Linked DNA regions of Homo sapiens. The protein of the gene in region 1 purifies or fractionates together with the protein of each later gene. This does not show direct contact. Each region holds a gene or a part of one and is shown on either strand. Other genes may lie near its edges.

What was found. The genes of interacting proteins can lie anywhere in the genome.
Region 2: the proteins of TTF2 (region 1) and GRHL1 purify together in Homo sapiens (co-immunoprecipitation; one large-scale study listed by IntAct). This does not show direct contact.

The regions. Positions count from the first base shown.
Region 1 is NC_000001.11:117,105,013-117,108,371, forward strand, and holds the end of TTF2 (transcription termination factor 2), read left to right. Parts: 3' UTR 1-2,441; downstream 2,442-3,359. UniProt on the Homo sapiens protein: DsDNA-dependent ATPase which acts as a transcription termination factor by coupling ATP hydrolysis with removal of RNA polymerase II from the DNA template. May contribute to mitotic transcription repression. May also be involved in pre-mRNA splicing.
Region 2 is NC_000002.12:9,996,693-10,000,099, forward strand, and holds part of GRHL1 (grainyhead-like protein 1 homolog), read left to right. Parts: intron 1-2,272; coding exon 2,273-2,337; intron 2,338-3,407. UniProt on the Homo sapiens protein: Transcription factor involved in epithelial development. Binds directly to the consensus DNA sequence 5'-AACCGGTT-3'.

The DNA of each region.
Region 1 (3,359 bases):
ACTATGAGTCCTGCCTGTGTTAACCAGCCTTCCTTCATGTCACAATACTGCTGCTGGATTTGCTTTTTACATCTGCCTATTGCACCTGACTTGGGCATGGATGATATGAGGTAATAAATGCTTTGAAAACCATGAAGGGCCACACAAGTGCTAGTGTTATTGCTGTGGGACAAGGTCTGGGAATATGAGAACCAGCAGCAGCATGGGTGCAGCTGAGAACCAGATGGTGAACATCTGTCTCCAAAGTGCAACATTCCTGAGCACCGGATTTATAAGGCATTTCTTACTCGACAGAATTGACTTCATGGAAGGTATGTAGTTTGACTTTGCCTTAGCCATGTTGATCAAATAGGAGTATTGTGCATGCCGCAGCTAGACAGAGTCCTGGGCCCTTTAAAAACCTTGTCAGTGACTCCCATTGCAGGCCCAGCGCAGTGGTTCACACCTGTAATCCCAGCATTTGGGAGGCTGAGGCAGGCAGATCACTTGAGGCCAAGAGTTCGAGACCAGACTGGCCAACATGGCAAAACCTCCTCTCTACTAAAAATACAAAAGTTAGCCAGGCGTGATGTTGGGTGCCTGTAATTGCAGCTACTCGGGAGGCTGAGGCAGGAGAATCACTTGAATCCAGGAGGCGGAGGTTACAGTGAGCTGAGATCATACCACTGCACTCCAGCCTGGGCCACAGAGAAAGAACGGTGATTCTTTCTAGCAGAAATTAGCAGAGTAAGTGTTTTTGGAACAATTGCTAATGAAAAGAAGGAAAAACAGAAAAAAAAAATTTTCTGTTTATGGGAGGTGACTTATTTCTCTATCAATCCTGTGAGTGATTTAGCATGGCAATTCATGAACACTGAGTTGTTTCCTTGCTCTGATTGTCTGTTGCTCAATGAAATGGCTTTTAGCAGGGCTCAAAGGTGAAGCCAGATTCTCCTGCACTAATAGGATAAGCATGGAGACACCAGTGTTCAGTGTGGCCTCTGGTTGTCTGAAATTTTGCTGTCAACTCTAATACCTTGAAAGAATTAGGTTTCCAAAGTGGGATATTGTGCTGCTGTTTGTGATATAGCATCTAGACTTAGGAAAGGGCAGGAACAATTTAAAAGCACATCTGTAGGCACAAAGAGAATTATAATAGAAATTCAGAATTCCTAGGCATATGACCTAGACTAAAATGTCTTCATAACTACAAATGAAATCAGGGTCATTTATAGTACAAACTACCACAGAAGTCAGTAGTTAGGGGATGGAGATAGATATGAAAAAAAAAAAAAGCAAACCCAGCCTAACTCCCAGGGAGGGAAGAGGGGCGACAGATATGCAGCTACACAATGTTTTTACTATCTTGAGTTCTTTTTACCCAGATTCCATAGCTAAATCCAGATGTATTAATAGGTAGAGACTACTTCAGAAAGGATGAGACTATTTTCTTGCTTAATTATCCACACAGTAATTCAGAAATGTATATTGAACACTTTTTATATGCCAGGCACTGCTGGGCACTGGAAATATAAAAGTAAGCAAAAATGAAAAACTATCCTGTCCTCCTGAGGCTTAGCATCTAAGGGAGACAGGCATTAGTCAACCCCGTGTGGCTGTGAATCAGCCATGATGCTGAGTGCTACAAGAGAGGACTGTGCGGCTGGGAGGGCTTATAACAGGATTTGACCTAGTTAGGGAAGATCTGAGGAAGTGATGAAAGAATGGAAATCAATATGTAAGAGCTCACAAGTCAGAGTGAGATGTTTCTTCCTATACTGCCTGCTTCTAATGAGCATCCACTTCATTGAACCACCTCTTCATTGAGCCAAACCTACCATACAGGGATACATTCTCTGGAGGAAAGTTGAGCAACTATTGCATTTGGGACATTAGAGTATGGGTGGGCTGACAGGTATGTGTATGTTTATTATCCAAGACAGCCAAGGTGTTTATCCTGTTACAACATCCCAGAGGACAGAGGCTCTTATTTGTGACTCTTTTTTCTTACCTGTAACACCAGAGGCATAACGTACATCATAATGCTGCATCTTGTTGACGCTTCAATGCTCACAATTCAAAGGTGATTTCTGAAGCACTTTGTTACACTGGGGACAGCTCCTAAATCCTCCCACTCTTTTTTTGCCTCACCTTGGAGTCTTGGGCTCTGTTGATCACTGACTCTGCCAGGTCTTTCAGCAGGCAAGACAGCTCAGTTAAATTGAGTTTGGACTCCACTGTAGTGCATGCATGAGACAGCACCCCCAATCCCCAACACCCACACACAAACTTTAAATATTTGTAACAGAATTGTTACCATTAATATTGCTTAAAGGCTAACACATTAGCCAGAACCTAGATGTCTTCTGGAAATTTTTTATTGCAATGTTACTTCATCTACATAAAGTTGTCCAATCACTGAAACCTCCAACTGAAATAAATGGTAAGCTTTTTGTTCTCAATTCTGAAATCAGATTCATTAAAAGGCACATGGGGATAGATGATATAATACAACAGGCTTCTTCATGGGAAGCAGTTCCCTAGATGTATGAGGTAATTGGAAAATTCAAGGCTGGTCTCTCAGGTGCATATAATTTATCCAACAGACTCGAGATAAGGCTGATTTTTTTTCCAAGTGGTATTTGTTTAAATGACAAATACTGAGGTTCGGGAGAAGGGAAGTCTGGCTTATAAAAACAGATACCAAGGAGATCCAAACTAAAAATTCTACCAATTAGATCTTTATTCACTGATCATAATATTAAGTCTCTACTATGTGCCAGGAACTGTCCTACATCGGGACAGTATGGTAGTTTAAAAATATCCCTGCCCTCATAGAGCTTACAATCTAATATGAGAGGACAGACAACAAACAGAATATATACATGTTGGCCTGTAATCCCAGCACTTCGGGAGGCTGAGATGGCCAGGAGTTTGAGACCAGCCTGGGCAACATGGCAAAACCCCATCTCTACAAAAAATGCAAAAAATTCACCAGGCATGGGGTCGGGGGGGTGGTGTGCCTATGGTTCCACCTACTCCAGGGGCTGAGGTGGGAGAATCACTTGAACCTCGGGAGGCAGAGGCTGCAGTGAGCCGAGATTGTGCCACTGCACTCCAGCCTGGGTAACAGAGAGAGAGAGACCCTGTCTCCAAAAAAAAAAACCACAAAACAAAACATATATATATGTGAGATGGTGATGAAACTGGGCAACTCTGGGGTGGGAAGTTGCTATTTTGTACAGGGTAGTTAGCTAATAGGGTGATTTTTGATACTGGAGCGAGAACTTGAGAGGAACATGAATCATGAAGGTATCTGTGAAAAAAGCATTTCAGATGGAGGGGCAGTGATTCTAAAGGCCCCAAGACAGTGCTTGGAG
Region 2 (3,407 bases), on another chromosome or scaffold:
AGAAGCTAACAAAAGTGATTTTTAATCAAGTACAATCTTAAAAACTTCATACATAAAAACAGTGGCTCCTCAGTCTACCTTTAAAACTCCCAATCCTAGGAAATTACTGAACTTGCATCAAGACCTCACTACAGCCTATTGCAGAGAAAGTAGACGTGTAACCAGTGATGGCCGTAAGTCCATCTTACGAGGATCTCAGCACGAGGCTGGAATAAACTGACCCCATGCTCCCTGTGGGGATATCAGTAAGAGAGGAAACATGGAAGGCTGCTGTGTTAATTTCCCGTTCCAGCTGTGCACTGGAAAAACGCATGTCATCAGCACTGAGTGCAGATATTTACCAGCCTGTCTCCTAGAGACCGTAGAGATCTTTAAGCTCAAAGTGTGTCCATAATTGGGCTAAAAGCATCTCCCCCAGCTCCCTCTGATGACTGTAGTGTGTTGAATTCATTTAACACATCTTGATAAAGGGCTTGCTTCATGCCAGGCACTGTGGCGGGCACTGGAGTTATGCGCGTCAGTGACACAGTGCTGAATGGAGTTTATTTTGTAGTTAGGAAGACACAGACACCAAAATAAGCAAAGAAGTTGAGGTCATTTTTCAGGTACTGATGAGTGCCATGAAGATTAATAAAGCAGGGAGATGGGGCGTGGGTTTGGGGAGCTGCTGTGCGGTCTCTCAGCCAGGCGCCCCAAGTCCACGGGTGTCACTCAGTGCATCCCTGCCTGCCCACAGCACAGGCAGCGCCGTTCCCACTGTCACTTCCTGCCTCCTAGGATGTCCCCTGGGTTTCTCTTTTCTTGCCTTTTGATGACCCTTCATCATGTCTTAAGAATCATGCAAACTGGCCAGGTGCGGTGGCTCACACCTGTAATCCCAGCACTTTGGGAGGCAGAGGCAGGAGGATCACCTGAGGTCAGGAGTTCGAGACCAGCCTGGCCAACATGGAGAAACCCTGTCTCTACTAAAAATACAAAAAATTAGCCAGGCTTGGTGGCAGGCGCCTGTAATCCCAGCTACTCGGGAGGCTGAGGCAGGAGAATCACTTGAACCAGGGAGGTGGAGGTTGTAGTGAGCTGAGATCCCGCCACTGTACTCCAGCCTGGCATAGCAAGACTCCGTCTCAAAAAAAAAAAAACAACAAAAAACAAACAAACAAAAAACATGCAAATTCTGATTACAGGGAAAGAGGAGAGTAAAGAGGATGCAGAATTACTGGGCCAGCATAACTGTTCATGGCTCACGAGGAACTCATGACAGGTCTTACATGTCAGAACACAAAGTATTATCATCCACTCGTACAGAAAAGAAAAAGGGTTTGTGTGGTGAGAACTTGGAGCTGGGGTCTGGTCTGAAACACGTGTTTGGAAGGTTGGCAGGATCTGCACGTTTGCCACCTGAGGCTCTGTTTCTCAGTGCCACCTTGAGCTTTGCTCTGTGGCTTGAGGTGAAGCTGGTGATGCCAGCCTGAGGATGGTCTGGATGACAAGTGTAACGTTTGATCTAGAGTGAATCAGCTGTTTGTCCTTGGAGCAATTCACCCATTCTCTTTAAAAATATTAAAAATAGCCTCTATGTCCCGAAAGGAAGACAGCCACAGCTCCCCAGAAGCTCATTACAGTGAGGGGCAGCCGGGCTGAGGAGAGCTGGAGGCCCCCAGCACACGAGCTGGGGCTTTTCCATGTCTTTGTGTCTGCGTTTTTGAAAAACAAAAAGTCGAGTGACTATGCATGTGTGTGTGTGTGTGTGTGTGTGTATATATATACATATATATACGTATATATATACATATATATACGTATATATACATATATATACGTATATATATACATATATATACGTATATATACATATGTATATATGTGTGTACATGTATATATATACATATGTACATATATATGTACACATATATATATACATATATATGTACACATATACATATATATGTACACATATACATATACATATATATGTACACATATATATACATATATATGTACACACATATATATACATATATATGTACACACATATATACGTATATATGTACACACATATATACGTATATATATGTACACACATATATACGTATATATATGTACACACATATATATACGTATATATATGTACACATATATATATACGTATATATATGTACACATATATATACGTATATATATGTACACATATATATACATATATATATATTTGTTGTTTGGTTTCTAAAGCCTTGATACAGGGTTTTGTAATTATTTTTCTTTCCTCTTTTAGATCTCAGACAAATACGATGTTCCCCATGACAAGATTGGGAAAATATTCAAGAAGTGTAAAAAGGGGTAAGCAGCCACTGCGTCCTGTGTACCTCGGAAAGTGCTGATGCCCCCCGCAGTGCTAGTGTGACGCACCCCCCAGTGCTGTTGACACCCCCCAGCACCATGTAACACACCGTGCATGCTAGTGACACCCTCCTGTGCCAGTGACACACACCCTGTGCCAGTGTGACACGTGTGCATCGTGCCCAGTCCAGAAGCAGCCAAAGAAACCTGGGTGCTGGAATGTGGCTTTTCTAAATTATATACGAAATTACTTAGATAAAATTGATCTGCCTTGAGGAGATCTTTGTGTATTGTTTCTCCAAGTCACCTTCTTTGCCCTCCACATGCCTGGCAGCAGTGCCATGGCTCCACACTCCAGGGTGTGTGGCCAGCGCCACTGAGGATGGCCAGGGCAGCACCTCCGTGTGTCGAGCCCGTTGGAGCCGGGCACTGGGTTGGGCACGTCCCACGGTGCTGCGCTTGGTCTTCACGTCTTCTTTCTGAGCTGGTCTCAGGGCTTGTTTATATTTATAGACAGGCGGCTGAGGCTCAGAGTTCAAGAGGCTTTTCGGGGCCATGGTTGGTATTCCCTGCCTCTGCAGCCCATGCCCTGCTCTACCCTCCTGCTCAGGATCCTATTTCCAAGTTATGTCACGTTGCTGCTTTGTCTAGAAATTAGTATTTTTAGTTCTTTTTTGTCTGTCTATGATGTTTGGCATGGATAAGCAGTGGCTAGCATAAGAATTTTTTGGCTTAGTTTTAAAACAAATTCTAATGGGAAATTTCTAGATGGTTCTAGTGGAAAGAGTTGGACTTAATAGTAGTTAATTTATTTTTGTTTATTTTCTTGTTTTTGTATTCTTTATTTTTTGTTTGATAATAGTAGTTCATTTAAACTTTGAGGCTCACTTGCTGGAGTGTGTAATTTGTCAGGGGGCTGTGACTTCACATCATGTAAGTTAGTGTTATTGATGTGCTTTTGCTTTATTCATTTAGAGATGGTTTCACTCTATCGCCCAGGCTGGAGTACAGTGGTGCAATCAGAGCTCACTGTAGCCTTGAACTCCTGGGCTCAGGCCATCCTTTCACCT